Homo sapiens: one gene and its partner. Changing the gene in region 1 together with any one later gene gives a genetic interaction. Each region holds a gene or a part of one and is shown in the gene's direction. Other genes may lie near its edges.

Region 1 (5,545 bases):
CTCCGCTCACTGCAAGCTCCGCCTCCCGGGTTCACGCCATTCTCCTGCCTCAGCCTCCCGAGTAGCTGGGACTACAGGCGCCCACCACCATACTCGGCTAATTTTTTGTGTTTTTAGTAGAGACGGGGTTTCACCATGTTAGCCAGGATGGTCTCGATCTCCTGACCTTGTGATCCGCCCGCCTCGGCCTCCCAAAGTGCTGGGATTACAGGCGTGAGCCACCGCGCCCGGCCAGATTACCTTTTAAAAGAGCCTCATGACACATTCTTTTTCAAATAAGATTATATTTAAAATGTAGTGATAATTTTGTTTGGAATAACTTTTTTTTTTTTTTTTTTTTTTGTGGCACAATCTTGCTCTGTCACCCAGGCTGGAGTGCAGTGGCACAATCATAGTTCACTGTAACTTTAAACACCTAGACTCAAGTGATCCTCCCATCTCAGCCTCCCAAGTGGCTGGGACTACAAGTGAGCACCACCATGCCCGGCTATTTTCTTTTTTATTTCTTTTAGAGACAGGATCTCACTATGTTTCCCAGGCCAGTCTTGAACTCCTGGCCTCAACAATCCTCTGGCCTTGTCCTCCAAAAGTGCTGGGATTATAGGCATGAGCCACTTGTGCCTTACCTGAATTCTCTGTAATATGCTGGTATAGATTATCTTTTAAAAGAACCTCATTTGGGAGGCCAAGGCTGGCAATCGCCTGAGGTCACGAGATCAAGACCATCCTGGCCAACATGGTGAAACCCTGTCCACTAAAATACAAAAAATTAGCTGGGTGTGGTGGTGCATGCCTGTAGTCCCAGCTACTAGGGAGGCTGAGGCAGGGGAATCACTTGAACCCGGGAGGTGGAGGTTGTAGTGAGCTGATATTGGGCCAGTGCACTCCAGCCTGGTGACAGAGTGATACTCCGTCTCAAAAAAAAAAAAAAAAAAGAACCTCATGTTGTTACATCCTTTTGCAAGTAAGATTATATTAAAAATATAATGACAGTCTTGTTCGGGATAAACATAGTTTTATATACTTATAAAGTCAGGGCATACGTTAGATTTATTATGGACTGATTCTTAGCTAAAGGACGCAGTGGAAACATCCTCCGAGAGGTTTCCATTCATTGTTAGTTTTTCCCTTACAGATTTTTCTTTAAAGAGTAAATTTTATATTGTGGGAAATGAGACAACATAGCTACTATTTAGATAATTACATAAATTAAAGGCTATTTTAATAATATCCTAGGTATTCAGAAATTCAATATTAGCAATTACAGAGAAATTAGGGGAAGTTTATTATATGTAAGTCAACTGTTTTTCTTTTATATTTTTCTTTCAATATATTTTTCTTTTATAGTTGAAATAGATCATGTAGATCTATTTTAATTTTATCACCTTCTTGCTTTCTTGGTCTACTAATTTCAAAGTTCTGTGTGCATTTTGAGACATTACTGAAAATGCCGATTTGTCTTAAAGTTGACTTCATTTTTAACATGAAAGATTTTTTCTTAAATGTCATATAGTTATTACATTTTAATAGATCTAATTCAGGAATTAAAGTTTTCCCTTTTTCTCTCTTCTGTTTGTTTGACAGTTTGCAGATACTCAAAGCCTTTTGCCTTTTTGTAATGATTATTTTATTTATTTTATTTTTTTTGAGACAGAGTCTCACTCTGTCACCCAGATTGGAGTGGAGTGCCGTGATCTTGGCTCACTGGAGCCTCCGCCTCCTGGGTTCAAGTGATTCTCCTGCCTCAGCCTCCAAGTAGTTGGGGTTACAGGTGTGTGCCACCATGTCCAGCTAATTTTTTGTTTTTTGTTTTTGAGACAGAGTCTCCCTCTGTCATCCAGGCTAGAGTGCAGTGGCGCCATCTTGGCTCACTGCAACCTCCACCTCCCGGGTTCACGCCATTCTCCTGCCTCAGCCTCCTGAGTAGCTGGGACTACAGGCGCCCACCACCACGCCCGGCTAATTTTTTGGATATTTAGTAGAGACAGGGTTTCACCGTGTTAGCCAGGATGGTCTCGATCTCCTGACCTCGTGATCTGCCCACCTAGGCCTCCCAAAGTGCTGGGATTACAGGCGTGAGTCACCACGACCAACCAATTTTTTGTATTTTTAGTAGAGACAAGGTTTCACTGTGTTGGCTAGGCTGGTCTTTAACTCCTGGCCTCCAGTGATCCACCTGCTTCGGCCTCCCAAAGTGTTGGGATTGTATGCGTGAGCCACCATGCCTGGCCTTGTAATGATTATTTTTTTGTAATGATTTTTAAATAGAGATTCATATATTGGAAATGAATATGAGTTGTTTTTTTTTTTTTTTTTTTGAGACAGAGTTTTGCTCTTGTTGCCCAGGCTGGAGAAATGAATATGAGTTTTTAAAAATTAATTATGAATGTATTAACATTTGTATTTCAGGTTTTTTGTGACATCGTAAACATGAGCCCCACACAGTGGGACTTCCCTGTGGAATTATGTTGCCGGCCTATGGCCTTTGTTACTCTAACGGGCCTGGATGTAGTTTATAATGCAGTCCATCGAGCTGTCTGGGACGCCTTCTGTGCAAATCGGAGAGCTGATCGAGTACCAATTTCTTTCAAGGTGCTCCCAGGTGACCATGAGTATCCCAAATGTAGACCCAAGGTAATGGCATTGTGATGGCATGTGTTCTTTCCTTCTCTCTCTCTATGTGTGTGTGTGTGTCTTTTTTGTTCTGTTGTGTGTGTGGAGTTTATCAAGACAGTGGTCACAGTGGTGCATAAAGAAAGCCTTAGGCATTTTCATGTAATACACTGCATGTATATTTAATAATAGTTCTTTTTTTTTAAACTCCAGAGGAATAATTACTTTATAAAGCTTTCTATCCTATGAGCCCAGGTTTTCCCTTTTTTGTTTTTAGGAAAAAACCCAACATAGTCCCCTCTAAAAGGAAGGTCTTGCATTCCCCACCATCATTACTAATGTCGTTTTTGAATCCCATGGTCTGTGCAATGTGGCTCAATTTCACAGATTTTTTGAGCACTTGCTTTGTGATAGGTACCTGGAACCATGCAACAAGCTAGTGATACGAATTTAAGTGAGACAGGTTCCCTATTCTTGAGGAGTTTTACATAAACTAACACAGTTTATTCATTGCGGAATGAAGAAAGGTATTAAGTTCAAAACTGACTTTTAAGGTGAACGACATAGTAAAGACGACTTTACCTTAGATAATAATTATTATCATGATGATAGTATCACTAATAGCTAACATAGTTGTAAAAAAACAGTAAAACAGTTTACTGTTTTAAGCAGTTTATGTGTAGTGATTTGTTATTTATCATAATCTTATGAGGTTGGTTTGAAAGTTAGGTGATAAAACCCTTTTAGTTCTGACCCCTATCCTTTTTTTTTCTTTTGCCCTAGAGCAGTGTCTCTGACATAGTAGTCTCTGGACCAAGTATGTCATCATAACCTGGGGTATTTATTAAAAATGTAGATTGCAGCCCTCCTCTTTGGTTTCTGGGAATATAGGACTTGGTCACCGGCTGATTATTTTTGTGTGTGTTTGAGAACCACACGACAACATTTCATATACTCAGCCCTGGAAACTGAGCTCTCTGAAATTGTGCAAGTAATAGCATCCCAGCCCTGGCCCTCACACGATTATTTTTCTTTTCTTTCTTTTTTTTTTTTTTTTTTTTTGAGACGGAGTCTCGCTCTGTCCCCGAGGCTGGAGTGCTGTGGCGCGATATCGGCTCACTGCAAGCTCCGCCTCCTGGGTTCGTGCCATTCTCCTGCTTCAGCCTCCCGAGTGGCTGGGACTACAGGCGCCCGCCACCACGTCCAGCTAATTTTCTGTATTTTTAGTAGAGACGGGGTTTCACCGTGTTAGCCAGGATGGTCTCGATCTCCTGACCTCGTGATCTGCCCACCTTGGCCTCCCAAAGTGCTGGGATTACAGGCGTGAGCCACCGTGCCAGGCCTACATGATTATTTTTCTTTAGTGTCATGTTTGTGTCAAGAAGGCAGGGAGCCCAGCACAAGCCCTCTTTTCTCTTAATGCTCGAATTCAAGCTGCTTTTCATTTCTCTATTCCCAGCTTTTGGCTGAGTCCCCATGTTATTTTGTGTCAGACTTCCTTATTGACCTCATCTTTCCTTGCTGGAGGTAGACATTGGATCACCATGAAGTGGAGTAGTCTGAGCCAGCACAGCTGATTTGGAAGGAATGTGAGGTTTCAACTGCATCCCTCAGGGCTAACACTCAAATCTACAGCATCCTCTTCCCACTCTGTGGCACTCAGTGCCCAGACTCAAGTGGCTGCTGTGAAGCTTCTGTTTAAGAATTGTTCTCTGCTTTGTACTTCATCTACAAGTGAGGTGAAATGCATCACAGCAATATGTCTTTGAAATAAACAAAGCCTATTGGATTTTAGATAATATTTTATTTGAGCAGTTTTACAAGAACAGAAGCTGGAATGGTGAAGAATATAAGTAGAATTTACCTGGAAATGGGCTACTTTTTTTTTTTTTTTTTTCTTTAGCAAAGTATTTGAGACCCTTGACATCATTAGACATGCATCATCGTTTTATGCATTCAGTTATGGGGCTGATAGAAACTCTTTGGCTTCAGTCATTCTTTAAATGGGAAGTATAGCTTCTCCAGGGTTGAGATTCCACCTTCAACACTTACTAGTTCTTACTGAATCTGTAAGCCTGAGTTTCCTAATCAAAAATGGGAGGTGTGTATATTGAATGAGATCAATGCACATAAAGTGCTTGGCACTCAGTAACAGGTGGTTTCTGCTCCTGTCAGGTAACTTTTCAATTTCTGCCAATGTTTGCAGAGAACTTCATATGAGTGGTACATTCCTAAAGGGATCTTAAAGACTGGCTGGATGAATAAGCATCTGAATCTGGTGCCAGCCCTGGTGGTTGTGTTCTATGAACTGGACTGGGATGAGCCTCAGTGGAAAGAAAAGCAGTCTGAGTGCGCCACCAGAGTGGAAATAGTCAGGTATGATCTTCTGTGTCAGGGCAGCTATGTCAGTTTGCACATGTGTGTTATTCACTAACATTCCTTGAAGGCAATGGAGTACCGTTCAGACTGCAGTGGTCACTTTGCGGATTGACCTCCAGTGAATCTTGTTCACTTCCTCACAGGTAGCATAATTATTGACTGTATATAATGCTGGGTACGTGAAGAAATTTAGAAGACTAATTGGTCTGAATTTCCAAATGTTTTTCTTGTATTATCTTTTTTGGAGACATAGTAATTTACTGTTTAGTCTCTTAAAACGCTTTGCTTTATCACTGTTTAAGTTTCAAATAATTAATTCTTTTGGATGACTACTCTGCAGTGTATCACCATAAAGAAGTAAGTTGCATTATAACTTTTACGTAAAAGTATACATTAATCTTTTGCTTTTAAGGAAGATTTTTAAGATTAGAAGATGTGAGATCATACTTTTAGAATTTAAATCATTGTGACATATATGTGCTTTGTGTGCAGGAAAAGATTTCTTCTGATCTTGGTTTTTTTAGTTGAAATTTATCTTCGGTTGAATGACCAA
Region 2 (3,549 bases), on another chromosome or scaffold:
TTGTCCAGGCTGGTCTTGAACTCCTGGACTCAAGCAATAGGATTAAAAATATCCTCCTGTTTCGGCCTACCAGAGTTCTGGGATTATAGGCGTGAGCCACCATGGGCAGCCAGTCACTAGTTTTATTTTATTTTTGTTGTTGTTGTTGTTGTTGTTTTGAGATGGAGTCTTGCTTTGGTGCCCAGCCTGGAGTGCTGTGGTGCAATCTCAGCTCACTGTAACCTCCGCCTCCCAGGTTCAAACGATTCTTGTGCCTCAGCCTCCCAAGTAGCTGAGATTACAGGCATGCACCACCACGCCTGGCTAATTTTTGTATTTTTAGTAGAGACAGGGTTTCACCATGTTGGTCAAGCTGATCTGAAACTCGTGACCTCAAGTGACCTCAAGTGATCCTCCCGCCTTGGCCTCCCAAAGTGCTGGGATTACAGGCGTGAGCCACCGCACCCAGCCCAGTCACTAGTTTTAAAATCTCACACCACTACCATCTCCAATACTCCTTTTTTAAACCTGCTTTATCTTTTCCCATAGTATTTCTTCATCTAACATATTACAAAGAGGCAGTATAGCATTATAGTTAAGAAGACAAACTGAAGCCAGATTGCCTGGGATTATATCCCAATTCCATCACTTCTGGTGTGTGTGTGTGTGTGTGTGTGTGTGTGTGTGTGTGTGTGTATTTAAAGTGGAATGGTTTCTGTCCATTAGAGCAGTACTTTGCATATAGTAATATGTGTACACCATTATTATTGTATTATTATTATTAACTACTAATTAATTTTATTTTCCTTCTCTCCCATTGGAATATAAATTCCATGAGAGCAGAGGGGTTTTTTTTTACTTTCTTCATTGCTGTATTCACAGCTTCTAGAACAGTGCCTAGCACATAGTAGACACTCAGTAAATATTTGTTGATCAAATTATGTTATTTCTGGAGTGATGAGGATAAGGAGGGTCAAGGAAGACAAGGTATATGTTTAGAACTTTTACAAAGAGAATGTACTCATGTATCCTTGTGCCCCTAAAAGCTTCATAAGCTTGCATGGAAAATGGACATACAGACAAATAAATTACAACACAGTATATTTACAAGATATGGAAGAATGAGTACGTAACTCTAAGGGGAAAGCAATGCAGTTGAGGAAAGCTTCCTAGAGGAGTAATAATGTGAGAGTTGGGTTTTTAAAGATGCATAGTTCCACCAAACAAAGTGTGAGATGGATGGGACAGCCTTTGAATAGCAGGTGCAAAAGCAAAGAAGTATGAAACATAGCAGTGGCTCTGAAAACTGCAAGCCGTGGAAGTTGAGAGGTGAGGAGCATTTTCAGTGTTTTAAGCTATTAATAATTTCATCTTATCCTTCTGCCTTACCCACTCCCATACTCCTAACTTCTCCAAGTAAGTGTTTGGCTGTAATTAGGAGCTTATTACTCCATTAAGACAAATATCTTGGGGTTTTTCTCATTATTTTCCTGAAAGTCTTTTTCTATTTTTCTGCTCCCCACAAGTTCTATTTTTTTAATTATTATAACACTATTCAGGTTCTAGATTCCCCTTGGTGTCTTTGGTATAAGAAATTCACATGTAATTTTTACCTGTGGAGTATAGTGAAAAAGGAGGAAGACATATCCTTAAATTATATACACATACACACACATAGTTTTTGTTACAGTATGATAGCTTTGTTTAGGAATAGAAACACAGTTGTTCAGCTGAATTATTTTAGTAATTAATATTTTTAATCCTATAAACATTGGTCTCTAGTCCCTTACCAGTGATGTAAGTGGAGAAGCTTGCTTTTCAGTGTGTGACTCAAGACTTCTCAAGGTTGACTTTTTAAAATCAGGGTTGGGGTTCTGCTTTTTTCCACCCACCTTCCTTCTATACATGGAGTCAGGAAAACACCCTTGATGACAGCACAAACTAAAAAAAGCAGTAGCATTAATCCACTCTGTTAGTTTCTGGCACTGCCTCTGTTTATACTCATATTGGATTGTGATTGTGTATCTGTCTCTGAGAGTCCCTTAAGGTAGGAATCATAACTAAGGTGTACATTTGTACACCTAGTTCAACACCTAGTTCATAATGGATGCTCATTAAACATTTGTTGAATTGGATTGAATTGAACTGAATTGAACTGGACTATGGCACCAACGGAGAAGGGGATTTTTGAGTTTGCTTTTAAGTGAGATTGATTTAAAATGAATTTAGAAAGAAAAATTATTCTTTTTGTTTTGTTTTTAAACATAGTCTAAATTTGGGGTACAGCTAGCAATATGTTCATTCGCCATAATTTTTTAAGCATTCTGAGCAATGACTCATTAGAGTCCCCAAATAGTTTTTTTTTAAGTCATAGTGGCCCTAGGAAACAAAATTAGGCTGGTAAATATAAATAGTAAGTGTGTTCTCATTATAGTCAGGAATGTGGGGTCTTGTTGATATACAGAGGAGGATCTTTATTTCTTCCCTTTGTAGCAGAGTTGGAAATGAACCAAAGATCCCCTGATAAAATTCCTATAGGGCTTCCCAGCACATTTATTTCATTCTTTCTAGAAGTCATCAAGACTTATTGTGTTATTGTTCAAAAAAAAATCAGTGCTACCTCATTTCCTAACACTTGTTTTCTGACCTCCAATTGTGTCTAGTCCAACTGGCCAAAAAGCCAGGCCAAAGATGTCTGTATTTCCATAGAGGAACAAATGAACTTAGCTTCTACTCCTTTCCCTCTACTTTGCAATTTTTTCTTTTGCAAAGGAGTTTGGAATTTAAATTCTCCAAGCCCAGAATCTTTCAATGCAAGATGGTAATAAAACTGCAAAACAATGGTAATAACTGGTCATTCCTCCAGTCCTCTGTCTTTTAAATATCTGTCTGCTCTGAGAGAGAGTCCTGAGCATCCAAATAACTTGTTGTTGTTGCTGTTGTTGTTGTTGAGACAGGGTTTCACTCCTGTCGCCCAGGTTGGAGTGCAATGGCACAATCTTGGCTCACTGCAACCTCTGCCTCCAGGCTCAAGCAATTCTTCTGCCTTAGCCTCCCAAGTAGCTGGGACTACAGGCACCTGTCTAATTTTTGTATTTTTTATAGAGATGGGGTTTCACTATGTTCCCCTGCCTGGTTTCGAACTCCTGGGCTCAAGCGATCCACCCGCCTCAGCCTCCCAAAGTGCTGGGATTACAGCGTAAGCCACTGCACCCGTCCATCCAAATAACTTTTATATTATAAAGAAGGCTGTCTTGCCAATGGGTAGCTATTTTATTCATTTACTCAGCATAACTTTATTGGATACCTCTGTGTTAAGCCCTGGAGATCTAAGGTGAGTAAGACTTCCCCCTACCTCCCAAGAAGCTCACAGTCTGTCTTGGCAACAATTATACAGTGCTAAGATAGGAGTGGGATAAAGTAATAACAGTAATTAGTTCAGCATGGAGGGGTCTGGAAGGGCTTTACAGAAAAAGTGACTTTTATGATTATGTATTTATGTATGTATGTATGAATGAGACCATGCCTGGCCAGAAAAGTGACTTTTAATCCTTAGTCTTGAAGAATAAG

Evidence for each region.
Region 2: changes in TRAPPC11 (region 1) and VPS45 together harm fitness less than expected from each alone (positive genetic interaction), as found in Homo sapiens cells (one large-scale study listed by BioGRID).

Annotation. Positions count from the first base shown.
Region 1 is NC_000004.12:183,661,438-183,666,982, forward strand, and holds part of TRAPPC11 (trafficking protein particle complex subunit 11), read left to right. Parts: intron 1-2,409; 5' UTR 2,410-2,430; coding exon 2,431-2,634; intron 2,635-4,819; coding exon 4,820-4,989; intron 4,990-5,545. UniProt on the Homo sapiens protein: Involved in endoplasmic reticulum to Golgi apparatus trafficking at a very early stage.
Region 2 is NC_000001.11:150,139,754-150,143,302, forward strand, and holds part of VPS45 (vacuolar protein sorting-associated protein 45), read left to right. Parts: intron 1-3,084; coding exon of another isoform or gene 3,085-3,178; intron 3,179-3,549. UniProt on the Homo sapiens protein: May play a role in vesicle-mediated protein trafficking from the Golgi stack through the trans-Golgi network.